Linked DNA regions of Homo sapiens: region 1 is linked to region 2. The links come from fine-mapping of genetic effects on gene expression. A gene starts in region 2. The other region holds a variant in brackets. All regions are shown on one strand. Distances are between the middles of the regions.

What was found. PIP is the estimated chance that this variant, and not a neighbour inherited with it, causes the effect. A credible set is the group of variants that fine-mapping cannot tell apart.
Region 1: its variant is the best candidate, but not a certain one, in a credible set for the expression of GPT in lung (GTEx, PIP 0.75).

Annotation. Positions count from the first base shown.
Region 1 is chr8:144,529,811-144,538,738 of GRCh38, reverse strand. It overlaps ARHGAP39 (Rho GTPase activating protein 39), which reads left to right. Exons shown (of 12, transcript NM_025251.3): 7 at 926-1,018; 8 at 4,537-4,610; 9 at 5,414-5,613; 10 at 6,343-6,434; 11 at 7,868-8,037; 12 at 8,123-8,928. The coding sequence ends at 8,317. Among named protein-coding and RNA genes, the nearest start is that of C8orf82, 5.2 kb to the right of the region's middle. RefSeq lists a silencer at 8,662-8,761. The variant C/T (reference allele first, on the strand shown) is at 4,876.
Region 2 is chr8:144,500,366-144,508,821 of GRCh38, reverse strand. It overlaps GPT (glutamic--pyruvic transaminase), which reads right to left and starts at 4,682. Exons shown (of 11, transcript NM_005309.3): 1 at 4,356-4,682; 2 at 4,129-4,218; 3 at 3,943-4,051; 4 at 3,691-3,824; 5 at 3,333-3,576; 6 at 2,895-2,974; 7 at 2,691-2,827; 8 at 2,416-2,590; 9 at 2,166-2,321; 10 at 1,979-2,091; 11 at 1,650-1,912. The coding sequence starts at 4,517. The coding sequence ends at 1,822. PPP1R16A (protein phosphatase 1 regulatory subunit 16A) reads right to left here. Exons shown (of 12, transcript NM_001329443.2): 7 at 8,431-8,456; 8 at 8,210-8,335; 9 at 8,061-8,136; 10 at 7,851-7,980; 11 at 7,528-7,693; 12 at 6,701-7,302. The coding sequence ends at 6,919. It overlaps LOC101928953 (a long non-coding RNA gene), which reads left to right and starts at 3,348. Exons shown (of 5, transcript XR_007061149.1): 1 at 3,348-3,450. RefSeq lists silencers at 1-201, 5,662-5,956, 7,618-7,977 and enhancers at 702-831, 1,142-1,271, 4,374-5,034, 8,345-8,456.

The sequences.
Region 1 (8,928 bases), 30 kb before region 2:
ATTAGTCAGATGTGGTGGTGCATGCCTGTAATTCCAACTACTCAGGAGACTGAGGTGGGAATCTCTTGAACCCGGGAGGTGGAGGCTGCGGTGGGTGGAGGTTGCAGTGAGCTGAGATCGCACCACTCACTCCAGCCTGGGTGACACAGACCCTATCTCAAAAAGAAGAAAAAACTAAGTCCATACTGATATAAATGAGTAATTCAATAGGTAGGAATAGACAAATCTGTGCAGAATAATGACAAATAATTTACGTACATATCCACCCTCCAGGAGCTGGAGCCTAACTCCACCCCTCAGGTGTGGGCCGGGCACAGTGACTCCTCCTACAGAGTGTGGCACGGAGCAGGAGGAGGAGACGGTACCTCACAGGAGCCTGCCAGCCGTGACCTCAGCTAGGTCATCGAGGCCAGTGGCAACACTGCGGAGTTACGCTGTGCAGAGCGGGAGGCAGACCCAGATCAGCCTGAGGGGAGCCCCCTCCTCTCTGACTGCAGCACCTGGCTTGGGGCCAGCTGCCTTCGCCCACTTGTTTCTGTTGGTTTTCTGACCGGCAGGCAGGGGGCCCAGGCCATGGCTGCCCCAGCCTTGCTGCCAGCCAGAGGGCAGAAGCTGCCTGCTCTCCTCCTGCTCCCCAGGCGCCTTCCCTGTGTTCTCCTCCTGCTCCCCTGGCGCCTTCCCTGCACCTCCACTCACGCCAGCACAGGCACGGCAGCTTCCCAGCCCACACAGTGCTCAGAAGGGCCCCCGGCACCTCTCTGCCACTCACACAGCCACGTCCCCCCAGAAACGCTCAGCCCCCAGCTGCACAGGGTGAGCCCCCAACAGGCCCAGGGGCCTGCTCACCAGCCAAGTGCGGGAGCTGAGTGGGCGCTGGCTCCTGGCGTTTTGTTCTGTCGTGCTGATGGTTGTCTTTGCTCCCCAGTGACACAGCACATAAAAGAGCTCCTGGAAAGAAACACTAAGAAGAAGTCCAAATTGAGAAAGAAACCCAAGCCTTATGTTGAAGAGCCGGATGGTAGGGCCTCTCCCCGCAGCCCCTGGGCGCGGCGTCTGCACAGCTCTGCTCTCCAGCCTCGGCCGCCTGGCCTTCTCTTCTCTAACCGCTTCTGGGCGGGGGGGATGGGGCCACTAACCTCAGGCCTGTGGCCTCCTGAGCGAGCTGGAGGGCCCAGGTGACTGACTGGACCCCTGGAGCGGTCAAGCCTGTCCACACGTGTCTTTGTGGTGTCCAGAGCCATTTCCAACTTGCTTGCTGGGTTCTTGATGGGGTGGGGGCATGATAACTTGCCGGCTGAGGGCTCCTGGAGGTGCCCCCAGGTGAGTGTTTGGGCCTGACCCCCACAGGGAAGTTTGCAGGTGGAGGGGTGTGTGGTGCCCTGCAGACAAGCACCCCTCAGTCCTGTCTTCCCGCCCAGGGCTGCCCCTGGGCCACAAGAGCCAAGCCTGGTGTTCAGAATCTGCAAGGAGTCGTCCCCTGCTTTGATGGTGGGCCCCTAGCACAGCCCCAGAAGCAGGGGGAGGGCTTCCCCACCCTCCCCACCAGCACCCTTCCCACCCACACTCTCACACAGCTTCCACCTCTCTACCTTCCCCCAGGCCCTGGCTCAGGAAAGCCCTGTGAACCCAGGGCTGTGCTCTCCCTTTTGAGAGCTACGCTGTCAGACCAAGTCAGCTCCGCGCTCACACCCATGCACACACAGGCTTCCAGGGCCGTCCTCCCGACCCCTGCAGTGTGGTCCTGCCAGTTAGTGCCTCACGCCCACTCATCTGTCTAGAGCTCCGCCACCACCTCTCTGCTCCACTTCCTTTGAGACCACTTGGCTTAGGCACCTCTTCCTCCAGGAAGCCATCCCTGACTGCATGCTGCCCATGCAGGCCCAGAACAGTGCCAGCGAGCTTTCTGTGGATGAGGTTTGCTTAGGGCCAACTCTGGGACCAGCAGGAGGCTACAGGGGCACGAAGGGCCCTCGTGGGGAATGCCAGGATGGCATCTGCTGGGCTAGGGACTTGTCCTCACCCTGGCACCTCCGAGGCTGCCACCAGCAGGTCTGTGCCAGGGGTCCCTGGCCCAGTCCCGAGTCACCCAGCCTGGCCTCACCCAGGACCCTGGGAGAAGAGGGCCAGCTGCAATGTAGGGGTGAGATTCCTGGCCACAGACGTCCTCAGACCACTCCATCTGGGGCAGCGTAGAAGGAGCTTTGCGCTCCTACCTGAGCTGGCGTCCGGTGGCCTGAGAGCTGGACCGACACCGCTGGCCATAAAAGCCTCCTGGCTGCAGCCAGGCGGAGCAGGGAGCAGACTCCCCTGTGCCTGGAGTGGAGCCCAGTGGGACATTGCGGCCCAGGGTGTGTCAGGTGGGGAGCAGGGTCAACATCAGGAGGCCCTGGCCACACCTGGTGGCCTGGGAGACCTGTGACCTGGTCCTGTAGCTCTAAGGTCCCCGGGGCAGGCCTGGCCCCCGAGCAGAGTAGCACAGGCCTTAGGAGAGCTGCTGCTGTTGGTGCCTCTGTGGGCAGCCGTCCCTCCTGGGCTTGCCTACAGCCGGAGGGGGATGGAGATGAGGGCTGAGGTCCAGGCAAGGCCGGATCAGGGCAGTGGGCTCAGAGCAGAGCACCCCACACAGGTGAGGGTCTCCCTGGGCTGGCGATGGGCACTGCCCACTATCCCACTGCAGGTCAGCAGACACCTTGGTGCCTGGCCCTGTGCCTGAGGCAGCGTGAGTGCAGTCATCCCCACCTTCCTAGACCTTAGGGCACAGGCAGCCTGACCCCCAGAGTGAAGTTGCAGGTGAAGTAGTGTGGCCTCAGTCCCTGGCCTGCCCACTACAGTTGTGACACCGGCAGCTGCCTGCTGAGCACTGCAACAGACAGGCATTGTCACAGTCCCCATCCTACAGAGGAGTAAACTGAGGCACAGAGAGACTGCATTATGATCACCTTCATCAGCTGAGAGGCGGTGGCCCCAGTGTATCCCAGTCACAGAGTGTTGGAGGGTGTCCCAGTCCCAAGCAGGCTCAGGCTGGGGTGTTTGTCCCACCAGGGGCCTGGGGACAGGAGATCAGGGCCTGTCTTCCCGCAGGGACAGCAAGCAGGAGGCCCAGCCCTGCCGTCTGCCCCAGGCCCCCCAGCCTAGTGACTACATGTCCCAGCTGCTGAGCTGAGGCCCTGGGTTTCTGCCGCCTTCCTGCAAAGCTCATTCCCTCCTTGCCTTCTTGAGGCTCTGAAGCCTGGGTCCAGTGTGCGTGGGCACCATCCATTCTAGAAAAACAAGGGTACCTCATAGCCTGCCCAGAGGGGCCCTTGGTTCCACATGGTCCCACGCTGGAGGCTGGGGCCACATCCTCTGCCAAGACCTGTGGTCCCAAGGACCATGACAGATTTTCTAGGACCTAAACGTCTATGAAAAAAAAAATTCATTTTGGTTCCTCTAAAAAAGAGTCTCCTTAGCAGTCACATGTCAACTATTCTGTGATAATTAGAGATGGACTCAAGACACGTGTGCACTTTTTTTTAACCTGGTCCAAGGACCCCATGCCCTCAGCTGTCCACCAGAAACTGCTCCTTCAAAGAAGACAAAGGTGTTCCGATTGGGGGTCAGGATCCAGAGGCCCCCCTCACCCTGGCAGGCGGTAGGCGCTGGGCGCTGGGGCAGGTCTCATGTCCAGAAGCACAGGGTCCTGTCCATCTGTCCGAGGTCCATGGCTCCCCTGGCCCCAGACAGCTTCTCTTGGCGTGTTCTCTCATCTGCTGCTTCCCGACCTGGAGCAGGAAGGTGCCGCGCCTTCCAGACCCAGCCTGGGAATCCTCTCCCCTCTAGCACCTTCCCCTGGGCTCTGTGTCTGGAGACTCCCCAGGCTGAGGTCCCTGAGTCCCTCATCAGGTGCTGACTCAGGCACACTGCCCCTCCCCTCAGGGACCCTGCTGTCGGGCTGAGTTTTAGGAAGCCCCTCCTTTGAGAAAGGAGACTGGGCCCTCTCATTGCTGCCTCAGTCCTTCAGAAGAGCCCAGAGGTGGTACTTCAGGCCCAGGGCTGCAGCAGAGCTGGGCTTGCTGTGCAGATAGCTCAGTGCCTGCCTCCCCCAGCACTGGCTGCGGGTGCTGGGTAGGTGGAAATGACTCCTCCAGGGGCTCCTGCCCACAGCCTAAAAGCCAGGGAGGGGCCTGAAGCAGAGAAGAGTCAAATACCTGGACAGCTCCCTGGGTCAGGCCCCGGGGAGGGAGCAGTGGGGTCTAGAGGCCCTCAGACCCAGGTCCTGCCCTTCCTGTTCCTGCGTGGCCGTAGGAGGGCAGGTGGAGCTGCCAGGCGGTTCCTCCCAAGCCTGTCCCTCTGCAGGTGGGGAAGTGCTCCTTGGGCCTCTGCTCTAAAGGACACTGCCTGGGAGAGTGTGAGGACCCGCTGTGCTGGGCAGGGGGTGACCGGGGCAAGGCCAGCCCAGCCCCCCAGGGCCCTCGAAGGAGCTGTGTCTGCTCACCCCTCTCCTGGCCCCACACCCACACACCCACATCAGGCTGATCAGGCCCCTTTCCTTTCCAGGGGTGGCGATAAGCACGTATGCCAAGTACTGTTACCACAAGCTACAGAAGGCAGCCCTGACCGGGGCCAAGAAGGTACGGGTGCGCCTGGGGGGCCGGGGAGGGCAGGCGGGGACACAGAGACCCTTGGTGGACAGCCCCAGGAGCCCCGCCTGCAGTTTGGTATGGGGCAGCAGCGCAGAGGGTGCCACATGGAGCCCGCCTAGGCGGGTGGCGGGGTACGCTAGGCTGACCCCGTGTTCTTCTGGGCTGCACCCTCCCCCGGGGGCTCTTCCTGGGCCCGGACCCCCAGCTCAGGAGCAAGGCAGGCAACGGGCTCAGTCACACCGCACCACAGGGA[C/T]AGGACCCCGTTCCCTGGACCTGTCCCAAGAGCCTGGCCCCTTCCCCACATCCTCTTCTCTCTGATGCGCTGCTCCCATCATACCCCTCCCCAGCGCTCTCAGCCCTGCCACAGACTTCTGGAAGTTTCACCCCAGCTCAGCTAGCTTGGCCTCTGCTGTGCTCCCCAACAGCCCTGGCCGGCCCAGGACTCACTCCCACCTTCCCAAGGGCCCCTGTGAGCTGGTGCTGTAGACGGTGACTCTGGCCAGGGAGCTGGGCTTGTCCGTAGCTCTAGTTGGAGCCAGGAGTTCACAGGGATGAGAGGAGGGGGAGGCAGAGCCAGGGGCAGCCCAGGAGGAGTTAGGGTTTGGGGGGCGAGGAGGGCTGGTCCAGGGATGGACAGTGGCCTGGGGAAACACCACACTCGGACCCAGGTGTGTGGGGCAGGAATTCTGAAGAGCGCCACCCACCTATGTTCGGGGAAAGAAGACAACCGGGGTGGCGGGGGGTCCTGAGGATGGCCAGGCCAGACCAGGACGGAGCCTCTGTCTTCACAGGGGCTGAAGAAGCCCAACGTGGAGGAGATCCGGCATGCCAAGAACGCCGTGTTCAGCCCGTCCATGTTCGGCAGCGCACTGCAGGAGGTCATGGGCATGCAGAGAGAGCGCTACCCCGAGCGCCAGCTGCCCTGGGTGCAGACACGGCTCTCTGAGGAGGTGCTGGCGCTCAACGGTGACCAGACAGAGGGCATCTTCAGGTGCCACGGCAACCCCGGGCGCCGGGTGTGGGGGCCACAGCCATGTGTCCACCATGCATCTGTGGCATGCAGGGGCCATTAAGCCTCAGGCCCACTGGGCTGCTTCCGCACCCATACCTGAGAGCAGATGGAAGGGTGGGGCCACAGTGTGGAAGCTGACCCTGAGGGTGTGCAGGCCAGGAGAGAGGGCAGGACCCATTCCAAAGAGGCAGCACAGCCAGCCAGGGAGGGCGCCCCTGCAGAGACGGCCACCAGGGGTCCAGAGCGTGCTTGGACACCAGCCATGGGTAGCCTGGAGTGGGAGCCTCAGATGACAGGCAGCCCTTGTCTGTGAACAGGGATGGCACAGGGTGCCACCCACTCCCATGACTCACCTGTCAGGGCAAGGGGTACCCAGGCCCCAGGAGGGCAGCTGGGGAAACTGAGGCTTGCAGGTTGAGCCCCAGTGGCCCTTTGGTGAGGGCATCCACCCAGGGAGCCAGCAGGGGTCCAGGGAGGGACGGTGGCCTGGGGAAGCACCACACTCGGACGCAGGTGTGTGGGGCAGGAATCCTGAAGAGCGCCACCCACCCACGTTCGTGGGAAAGAGGCCAACCGGGGTGGCGGGGGGTCCTGAGGTTTTGCTCCCCTCCCCGGGTCAGCAGGGGCCTACCGGAGGGAGTGTCCAGGCGGAATCATGAAGCCGCAGCACAGGCTCCTGTTGCCTGAGACCTGCCCTGTGCCCTGCAGGGTCCCTGGGGACATTGACGAGGTGAATGCCCTGAAGCTGCAGGTGGACCAGTGGAAGGTGCCCACAGGCCTGGAAGACCCCCACGTCCCTGGTGAGTCCCCCACACACGCTGCAGCAGAGCGGGCCTGGCTCAGGCAGTGGTTCTCAGGGGCCCCTGTCTCCGCCTCTGGGGTCCACCCTGATCCTGCCCAGTGATGTGATGGCTTCCCAGTCACTTCTAGCACATCCTCCCTTCTGCCCATTGGACAGTTTCCCCAGGTGTCTGCTGGGCACCCCGAGGCCTACCTGTGCAATGCAGCCCACTCCCCACCTGCTGCTCCCTGCCCTGTGCCCTTCTGCCGTGCCTGCTATGTCTAGCCTACTCCCCACCTGCTGCTCCCTGCCCTGTGCCCTTCTGCCGTGCCTGCTATGTCTAGCCTACTCCCCACCTGCTGCTCCCTGCCCTGTGCCCTTCTGCCGTGCCTGCTATGTCTAGCCCACTCCCCACCTGCTGCTCCCTGCCCTGTGCCCTTCTGCCGTGCCTGCTATGTCTAGCCCACTCCCCACCTGCTGCTCGCTGCCCTGTGCCCTTCTGCCGTGCCTGCTATGTCTAGCCCACTCCCCACCTGCTGCTCCCTGCCCTGTGCCCTTCTGCCGTGCCTGCTATGTCTAGCCCACTCCCCACCTGCTGCTCCCTGCCCTGTGCCCTTCTGCCGTGCCTGCTATGTCTAGCCTACTCCCCACCTGCTGCTCCCTGCCCTGTGCCCTTCTGCCGTGCCTGCTATGTCTAGCCCACTCCCCACCTGCTGCTCCCTGCCCTGTGCCCTTCTGCCGTGCCTGCTATGTCTAGCCCACTCCCCACCTGCTGCTCCCTGCCCTGTGCCCTTCTGCCGTGCCTGCTATGTCTAGCCCACTCCCCACCTGCTGCTCGCTGCCCTGTGCCCTTCTGCCGTGCCTGCTATGTCTAGCCCACTCCCCACCTGCTGCTCCCTGCCCTGTGCCCTTCTGCCGTGCCTGCTATGTCTAGCCCACTCCCCACCTGCTGCTCGCTGCCCTGTGCCCTTCTGCCGTGCCTGCTATGTCTAGCCTACTCCCCACCTGCTGCTCCCTGCCCTGTGCCCTTCTGCCGTGCCTGCTATGTCTAGCCCACTCCCCACCTGCTGCTCGCTGCCCTGTGCCCTTCTGCCGTGCCTGCTATGTCTAGCCCACTCCCCACCTGCTGCTCTCTGCCCTGTGCCCTTCAGCTGTGCCTGCTCTGCAGACACCCCCTCACGGTGGCTACACAGACGACTCCTGAGAAAAATCCTGTTTTGCACAACTCTGCTGGCGTGACCCACATGCCTCCAGGATCGAGTTCAGGCCCCCAGGAGCCGAAAGGCCCTCTGGGGTCAGGGCCCAGCCTGGCCAGATGGGCCCTGTCCAGAATGAGCCGGCCCTCCCAGCCTGTCCCCCACAGCACCCCTCCATGCATGTCCGCCACGGGACCCCATTTGGCCCAGGGGTGCCCGCCGAGCAGGGCCGCTGAGCCCCGTGCTGTGTCCCCAGCGTCCCTGCTGAAGCTGTGGTACCGGGAGCTGGAGGAGCCCCTGATCCCGCACGAGTTCTACGAGCAGTGCATCGCGCACTACGACAGCCCCGAGGCGGCGGTGGCCGTGGTGCACGCGCTGCCCCGCATCAACCGCATGGTGCTGTGCTACCTCATCCGCTTCCTGCAGGTACTTCCCTCCCCGGGGGTCCCCGCTGCTTTCCCCTCCCCGCCCCGCCCCCGCCCCTCCGCGCCCACCCTCGCTCCTCCACCAGGTCTTCGTGCAGCCGGCCAACGTCGCGGTCACCAAGATGGATGTCAGCAACCTGGCCATGGTGATGGCGCCCAACTGCTTGCGCTGCCAGTCCGACGACCCGCGCGTCATCTTCGAGAACACCCGCAAGGAGATGTCCTTCCTGCGGGTGCTCATCCAGCACCTGGACACCAGCTTCATGGAGGGTGTGCTGTAGCGGGGGCGCCCGGGGACAGGAGGGATGTCCTGCCGCCCCCAGCCAGGCCGAACTCCGCACTCGCTCTCCCGGCAGAGGGGCCAGAATCGCCCGGCCCAGCCCTGGAGCCCCCTCCACTCCCCCAGGCCCCTGGCCCCGGCGCTCCCCACGTCTTCTGCCTGGTCTGAGGGTGCAGCCAGGGCACAGCAGCGGCGGGGAGGGCGCCTCTGGCCCCCCACCTCACGGCCAGTTCCCGCGGGCACCGCCTCGCCCTCCGCTGGCCGCGGGTCAGCTCCGAGAAAGTGCCTTCTGTGTCCTGGAGCCGAGCGACGCTGCCTCCTTGGGGCCGGGCTGCCTCCCTGTGGCTCCTGCGCGCCCTGGCCTGGGCCTTGCCCAGCCGCCCCGGTCTCTCCTTCCCTTTCTCCTGTCCTCGTCCTGGCCTGCAGCTCTTCCCAGCCCCGAGAGAGCTTCCCGACCTGTCCCCGCCTCCTCTCCCTCCCTCGGCCCGTGGTCCCCAGCTGGTGACTGCTCAGGAGTTTGGGGGCTCCAGGACAGTGGGCCCGGGGCCTGGCAGGCTCTCGGTGGGTGGGGTGGGGGCCCCCAAACCAAAGTCCTCTGGGGTAGGGAGCAGG
Region 2 (8,456 bases):
CGTCGCTGGAGCCCCGCGGCCACCGGCTCCAGGGCCGGAAGGTCGCGCGGGCCACAGAGACCGCAACGGGCCAGAGCGTCAGCTCGCGGGCGCCCCCGGTGGCCAGTCCGGGCTCGGGCCCGCGGCCCCCCGCCCCGCCACGTGCGCGCTCCCACCGAGGTCCTGCGCGGGTGAGAGGCCCAGAGGGGGAAGCTACAGAGCTGGGCCGGCCTCGAATGTAAGGATCGGCCTGCGCCCACGGCCAGCCCTGGCCCCTCTCAGTAGTTTCGGATCCGCTCCAGGCGTGCTTCCTTCCTGGTGTCAGCCGAAGCGTGGTTGCTGCAGTGCCCAGCCCCCGCTTCTCCAGCCGCCCGCATGAAGGCGTCCGTTTCTTAAGGGTTCCGCCGTCTACCACTGGATACTTCCGGTGCGGACCCCAACCTTGCTGTGTCTGTGGCTTCAGCTCCTCCGTAAGGCGGTGACAGAGCCATGGAAGTTAGGAGGGAAGTGTGAAAGGTCAGGACCCAGCTTAGCTCAGAAGGACACCGCCAGCCACTGCCCGTGACGCCCTTCGGTGTCCGGTGACAAGGCTAGGAGCACCCTGCCTGATTCGAGCCCGCCCTGCCAAGGGAGGGGCCCACCTGCTGTGTCTCCTGCCCAGAGCTGTGCCCTCTGGGGCTCCCGAGGGCCAGATGAGGCTGTGAAGTGTGTGTGGCCTGTGGTTAAGAACCATCTCCAGAGCGAAAAAAACCAGGTGCCCTTGGCCAGTCCTATCTCCCAAGTTTGTGAGTCTCTAAAGCCAGCCCTGTCCTTGGCGGACTTGAGGGCACTGGACCCAACGCATTTTTCTGGCTGCCGAGGCCTCTGAGGGGGTTTCTTGTCAGCTCAGCAGGTTTTTGGGTTGCAGGTTTCCACGTCTATCAAATGGGGACTATCATGCCTACTTCAGAAGAGCATCTGTGCAGATTGAGTGACCCCCCAGCAGTGTCTGCATGTAGTAGGTGCTCAGCCATGCTCCCCAGGCCAGGACACAGCGCTGCCCACTCCCGCTCAGCCCAGCCCCTGCCTCCTCCAGCCCCAGCCCTCCCCTGGGACGCTCCCTTATCCTCTCCCTCTGCCTCCCACTCCACCCAGCCGAAGGACTGCACCACACAATGACACCAAAGGTGGTCTCTGGCCCCCCAGACAGTGGCCCCACCCCTGCTTCCTTGGGTAAGAGAACCAAGACTTCCTTCCTGAGCTGTCAGTCACCCTGACCAGCCAGCACCATGCTGGTTTAGTATTTCCCCCTGCCCCAGGGAAGACATGGACCTCACAGGAAAGGGAGCCAGGAAGGAGGCAGTTCACTGTGCCTTCCTCAGGAAAGGCTGTGTTTCTTCGGGTGGCCACCTGGGCCCCTGGCTCCCTAGATTCTTGGGGGCTTCCACAAAGGGGTGTGGGGCCTGCGCTTTCCTCACACTCTGGACCCTCTCAACCCATTTCTGTGTGATCTGACGGGCTCTGCCCCACAACCAGAGGCCAGAGGGAAGACCCAGCCTATGGTGGGCACGGGGTCTTCAGGAGGAAGAGGTGGGTGGTGGCCGTGGAAGGTCCCTTCTCTGAAGGGACTCAGGCCTGCAAGAAGGGTAGGCAGGTGGGAGCGGGCCACGCAGCTGCCAACGCTTCCTCCCTGGAGTCAGACTGCCACACAGCTTTATTAGGGACCTGCAGAGAGGCAGGGGCCCAGCACCCCCCCCACCCCACCCCGCCAGGCATCAAGAGCAAGTACAGTGGGCTCCAGAGCCTCCCAGGGCTCCTGAGCACACAGTCCAGGGCGACCCAGCCTGGCCCCAGCTGGGGTGCTCAGGAGTACTCGAGGGTGAACTTGGCATGGAACCTGCTCAGCTTCTCCAGCAGCAGCCGCAGTTTCTCCAAGGGGGGCAGAATGGTCATCCTGAAAGGAGTTGACAGTGAGTGAAGGGCCAGGGTGGCGGGACAGGGAGTGAGGGCCAGGCCTCACCGGAAGTGGTAGGTGCCTTCCCGCTGCCCAAAGCCGCTCCCTGGCACCACGCAGATGCCGGTCTCCTCCAGGAGGCGCAGGCAGAAGAACATATCGGGGGCCAGGCCCAGCTCCTGTGGACGGAGAGCCGTCAGAGAGGGATGCCCGGCCCCCCCTGCCCACCCCGCAGGCCCCGCCCCCGCCTGACCTGAGCGCGCTCCACCGCCCGCGGGGGCAGCTGCACGCGCGGGAAGGAGTACATGGCGCCCTGCACTGGGTTGCAGCTGATGCCAGGAGCCTCATTGAAGACCTGCTCGGTGAGCTTGGCCTTGGCCGCCAGCTCTGCCAGCACTGCCTGCTTCTCCTGTGGCCGCGGAGGGAGGGCCCATCAGGGCACGGCACTCGGCATCCCCCACCCCTGATTAGGTCACCTGGACCCCCTCCTGCCCCCAACTCACAGCCTGGAACTGCGCAAAGGAGGGGTCGGTGGGCGCGGGCGGGCTGACCACCAGGTCCAGCAGGGCCTGTCCTGGCACCGGCGGGCACAGCCGCACACTCATCAGCTTCAGCATCTGCTGCTGCACTGCAGCGTCCATGTTCACCACCTCCACATAGCCGCCGCGGAACCCGCACCTGCGCACGGCCAGGTCAGGTGCGGAGGAGGGGGTGGCCCATCGGGCGAGGAGGGCCTGGCCATGGCCCGCGAGCCCCCACCCGCCTCGTACGCACGCACTCGCCCATGTAGCCCTTGGAGGTGGAGTGGAAGGAGGCAAGCTCCTGCTGCCCGGCGTAGGGCGGCCCCATCTCCATGAGCACCTTCTTGAATGAGTGGAACTGCGAACCCGCGGCGTACACGTTGTCCTGGTACACCTGGAAGGGCGCAAGGCGTCACGGGGGCGGACTGTTGCCCGGCTTCCCGCTCCCCCGCGCCGCGCACCTCGTCCGCCAGCAGAAAGAGCCGCTCTTCGAAGGCGAAGCGGATCACGGCCTCGATGCACTCGCGGGTCTGCACCTGCCCTGGGGTGCCGGGGAGGCAGCAGTGCTGGGTGAGCCAAGGGGGCGCACTGCCCTCCGCTGGGCAGCCGGGGTCCAGCGGACCCGGCACTGCCTGGGCCAGGGCGCACGTGGGTGCGGGAGGAGTGGGGCGGGGCGGCGGGGAACGCACCGTGGGCGCGGAGGGAGTGGGGCGGGGCGGCGGGGAACGCACCGTGGGCGCGGGGGGAGTGGGGCGGGGCGGCGGGGAACGCACCGTGGGCGCGGGGGGAGTGGGGCGGGGCGGCGGGGAACGCACCGTGGGCGCGGGGGGAGTGGGGCGGGGCGGCGGGGAACGCAACGTGGGCGCGGGGGGAGTGGGGCGGGGCGGCGGGGAACGCACCGGTGGGGTTGCCAGGGTTGATGACACAGAGCGCACGAGGGCGGCAGTGGTCACGCGCCTGGCCCAGTGCACGGTGAAGCTCGGCCACGTCCAGCGCCCAGGCACGCTCCTCGTCCAGGTAGTAATCCACCTGCACTGCGCCCAGCTCTGCCAGCGTGGCCGAGTAGAGTGGGTACTGGGGGATGGGGATGAGCACACCCGTGCGTGTGTGGCCCTCGCCGGCCACCAGCAGCTTCAGCACCGTCTGCGGAAAGGAAGGGGAAGGCAGGGTTGGCGAGGCCTGGGGCCGCACCTGTCCCCCACCCTGGGCGCCCCCTCTGCAGTGTCAGGAATGTCTTGGTGCCCATGCCCAGCCTACCACGATGGCATCGCTGGCCCCTGTGGACAGGAAGACGTTGTTGGGGTCCGCAGGGATGCCTCCGTCACGCCTCTCAATGTACCGCGCCACGTCCTCCCGGATCAGCTGGATGCCGGAGCTGACGCTGTAGGCCCCTGGACTCGGGCAGGACAGGATGGGAAGTACAGGTGAAGTTCTCCTCAGCCCTCCCAAGGGACTTCCCTCCTCCAGTGGCAGGGCGGCCCTCTGCTTCCTCCTGGCCCTGGCTCTCACCCAGACTGTGGCCCCCACACGCCTGCAAGATGCGCTCCGCCCTTTTCTTGGCATCGTCAGGGAAGTTGGGGCTGCTCAGAAGATCAGGGTTAACACAGAGGGCCAAGACCTGGGAAGACGGAGTGCTGAGGCCAGGGCACATGGGCTGGGGGTGGGGGGGTGCTCCGGGCAGTGCAGGAGCCTCACCTGGCGCAGGAAGGTGATGGGCCTCTGCCCCATAGCCTGTGCGTCCCCGATGTTGGCACGGATGACCTCGGTGAAAGGCTTCTTCACACCCTGGGAGGGGAGGGGAGCAGGCAGGGAGACTGTGCCCTACCTAACCCCTCAGCCCTTGTCCCATGTGCCAGTGGGGCTGGGGCCAACTCGGCCACCCCATTGTGACCTGGAGGGCAGCGAGGGGCCCTGGGCCATACCTGGCGCAGCTCCTGCTCCAGCTCCAAGGCTCGCTGCACTATGGGGCCACGCACTGCGTACTCCACTCTCCGCACACGCGGGTTCATGCCGTCCAGCGTCAGCACCTTCGCCCTCAGTCCATGCCTCACCGCCTGGCTCCGGTCACCTGTGCTCGAGGCCATGACTCTACCCAGACCAGGCGGGAAGGCAGCTCAGGAGGTGGCAGGACCAGAAGTGGGAATGGCGACAGCTGGGTCTGGCTTAGTGGGCCAGGGCTGGGAGGGGGCAGCCGTAGCAGAGGGAACTCCAGGCAAGAGAGCACCCTCTTCACCGCAGCTGGCCTCACTGGGAGGGACAGAAAGGGCTGAAGGAGCTGGGGACAGTTGGGCCCCGCCCCACCCGTCTGGGAACAGCTCTGCCCCAGGGAGGCAGAGGCAGTGGGTGAGGTGGCAGGCGGGGCTTGGGGCAAGGCCCAGTGCCTGCCTAGTGTCCCCACGAAGGGAGAGCAGGAGACCCACATGGGGGGTAGGTACAGACGTCAGTCCGGACAGCTCTGAGGGACTAGACATGGGGGGAGGGGGAGAGGGCTGAGCACCTGGGGTGCTCAGGAGGTGAAGGGGTGCCCAGCAGCCCTGAGGGGCTGGCAGAGCTGGCAAGGAGGGACCCCCGAGGCGAGACTGGAGCCTGGGCTGCTGGGATTTACCCCAGCAGGGCTTGGCCGAGGCCTGGCCCTCGTGGCACCCGCATCTTTGCTTGGGCCAGCGGACCTGTCTCCTATTAACTGAGCCAGGCCTCAGGAATCCAGGGGGTGCTGGGGGGAGGGGAGGGGTGTTCAGGCTCTGGGTTCCATCTGGACCCTCCAGAGCTGGCAGCTATGGCCCAGAGGCTGCAAGAGCTCTGTAGCTGGACCTTGGTCCCTGATGAGCACTGCGAGGGGCTGGGGGAGGGGGCTGGAGCCAGGCAGTCCAGCCCTGAGCCCTGGGACAGCTCACACCGTGGCTGCTGTCATGCCCTTTCACCAGGCACCAGCTGGGGGTTGCCCTTGGGACACACCCGAGGCTAGGGGTGACCTGAGCTCTCCAGCCCTCTTGTTCCCGATTGGAGGAGAGAGTAGGAAACGAGCTGGGATAGGCCGTCAGAGCCCCACCTCCACAGGCCTGCTGAGCTGAAAGGCCAGGCTCCACGCTGGCCCACCCCAGCGTCGGGCACCGAAACCTGAACCATGGGGGTCAGGGAGCCGGCCCTCTGAGCAGGGCTGTGGGCAACCAGCCAGGCCCAAGTCGGACCTTGGCTCCTCTGATCCTGCTGGCTGGGAGAAAAGCCATCGGGAGCCCTGGACAGCCGGCCCCCAGGCCTCTCACCGTGCACGTCTCTGTTCCGCTGCCACAACAGCCTCCCCGTGCGCAGGCCTGCCCCTCTGGCCCCCAGGCCGGGGCACAGGTTAACATGGGCCTGGCCCCAGGCAGAGCCAGCCCCTGCCCGCCCCCTGGCAAGGGAGTCCAAGTGGCAGCCCTGGTGGCAGGTGGACCTTGGGCAGCTGCCCCACCCCCCACACTAAATTTAACCAGCAGCCAGCCCTGGCCCGCCCACAGCCCTGTGAGGACACCCTTCCAACCAGGGATGCTAGGGGAAGGGCAGGCCCAAAGGACACTGGGCTGACGGGCCCGTGCTGAGCCAGGAGGGAGAACAGCCCAAACCCACACCACCCAGCACTGGTGGCCACACAAAGCCGCCCACCATGAACAGACGAACCAGCGGTGCCCTCAGCCCTCCTGCTTGAGGCCCCTAAGGGGCCCCCTCACCCTGACACATTGTGCCAAGCCAGCTCAGAGCCAGAGTGGCCAACTGCGTGTCCCCTATGCCAGCCCAGGCGGAAGCTGGCAGCCAGGCCCCAGGATTAAGGCTGCGTGCCAGGAACTGGGGACCCACAACCCCCCCAGGGAGCTTCTGACACAGCCTTGTGCTTGTTTTGCCCCTCTGGCTCTGACACAAGAGTCTTGTGGAAAACACCACCTCCCTTTCCAAGCCATGGTCCCTGGGACCCCCACCTTCCGCCCCTCAGCACAGACACCCTAGGCCCTGGCCCCCATGGAGGCTCCTTCAAAGCACCTGGCTCCTCTCAGGAGAGCAAAGGGTTACGGAGGAGGCTCCAGGAGGCTGAGCATGGGAGGGAGTGGGTGAGGCCCAGGCTTCCAGCCCAGTGGCTGTGAGCCTCACTCCCACACAGCCAGGGCTGCCACATGCCCCAGCGCGCACCTACAGGCTTTCATGCTCACAGGCACGGGTGGCACCCCAGCCAAACAGCACAACCCACTCCCCACTGTGGGACAGCGACCCAGCTGAGACACACAACACACAACGAGGCTCCATGGCAAAACAGCCCTTTATCAAGAGTTGCAGGATAAAAATAGTCTTTGCAGCCAGACATCCCTCCAGGCATGTCTTCTGACCTGAGAGGGGCCAGTGTCCTGTACAGTAGAAGCCGGGGTTTCCGTGCTGCACCCGCAGCACCAGGGCACGCACCGTGGGGAGGCAGCCTTGGGCTGTGCCCGCGACAGGGCCCCTGCATGCTGAGCAACAGCCTCACATGAGCAGGCAGCACGGCCTCCTCTCCACGGGAGCCTCCACCGCCGGGGCTGTGAGCTTGAGCAGGGGTGGGTCCCCGCCTGCCCTGAAGCCACAGTCAGGCTGGGGGGTCACCGTGTCACCAGGCAGGCCAGGCTCAGCTGTCTCAGGGCTCTCGGGCCCCTCAGGTGGGGGTCGCTGCAGCTTGGCAGCAGCTCGCTGGCGCTTCAGGTCAGCCAGGGTGTGGTGGGCCTTGTCGTGGACCAGGGTGTGGGGGGTGGTGCTGTCCAGGGGGCTCAGCTGGTAGGAGACACTCCGGTCTAGTCGCTTGGAGTATAGATGCCGCACTGGGGAGCCCCCTACTCGGCCATTGTGCGGCCTGACCACTTCGGGGTTGTCCTCCTGCGGGCAGTGAAGGTCCCAGAGCCATCAGGAGGCTCCTCCCCCCTCCCTGGCCTTGGGTTCAGGCTGTATGGTCATGAAGGGACAGACAGGAGAGATGGGGCAAAAGCTGGCCCCTGCAGGGCACCATTCCTGACACAGGCAGGAGGGGGTCCAAGCGGAGAGAGAACCAGGGCAGAGCCAGGCCCACCCCTGCGCTGGGCGGAGCAGGGACGGGGCGCTCACCTCCGGGGGCGGCGGCCTGAGCTCTGCGCCTGTCTGGCGGTCATCGTTGTCCTCGGGCGGCTCCGGGCTGGTGGGCGGCGGCTGTTGCCACACGATGGCCTCCTGGGCGTGCTGCTTGCGGTACAGGTCGGTGCGCTGGGTTAGGCTCACCCGCCTCACCACCTTCCTGGGGAGGAGAGAGGAGAGGGAGTGAGGGGAAGGGGAGTGCCCGGAGGACCCCGCCCACCCCCTCGGACTCTGCCCCCAGTTCGGCTGGCACTCCGCCCGGGGCTGACGTCCGCGGGGCCAAGCCCGGGGCGGGGCCTGCTGGGGGCGGCGCTCACCCGCGGCTGCCGGCGCTGGAGGTGCGGCGGCGCAGCAAGGAGCGCTGGCGGCTCTGGGCGCGCAGGAGGGCGTCGTGCTTGTGCTTCAGCTCCAGCAGCTTGGCCCGCACCTCCTCGTCCCCGCACACATCTGAGAAGTGGGCGCAGGCGTCAGGGGCGCCCTCCCCGCCTGTCCTCTCCCCCAGGTGGAGGTGGGCCCCGCAAGCTCACCAAGGGGCGTCTCGTCCATCAGGGACTTTGCGTTCAGGTCGGCCCCGTGCGCCACGAGCAGCTCCACCAGGGGCACCTGTGGACGGCAGGCCGGAGCTGCAGACTGCTGCGCTGGAAGCCCCCTCCCACCTGCTCCCGCCCGCACTCACCTGGCCCCAGTAGGCCGCGGCGTGCAGCGGCTCCCAGCCGTCTTGGTCCTTAGCGCTCAGGCTGGCTCGGTGTTCCAGCAGCAGGGCAGCCGCCTCGCTGAACCCGTTGGCGGCTGCGACGTGCAGCTGCAGGCAAGCGCCCGGCCTGAATTCGGCCCCATCCCCCACCTCCAAGTAGCGAGGCCCCCAGCCCCGTGTGCCCCTCACCCCCCAGCCCTCACCAGCGTGGCCCCGTGGTCCAGGGGGG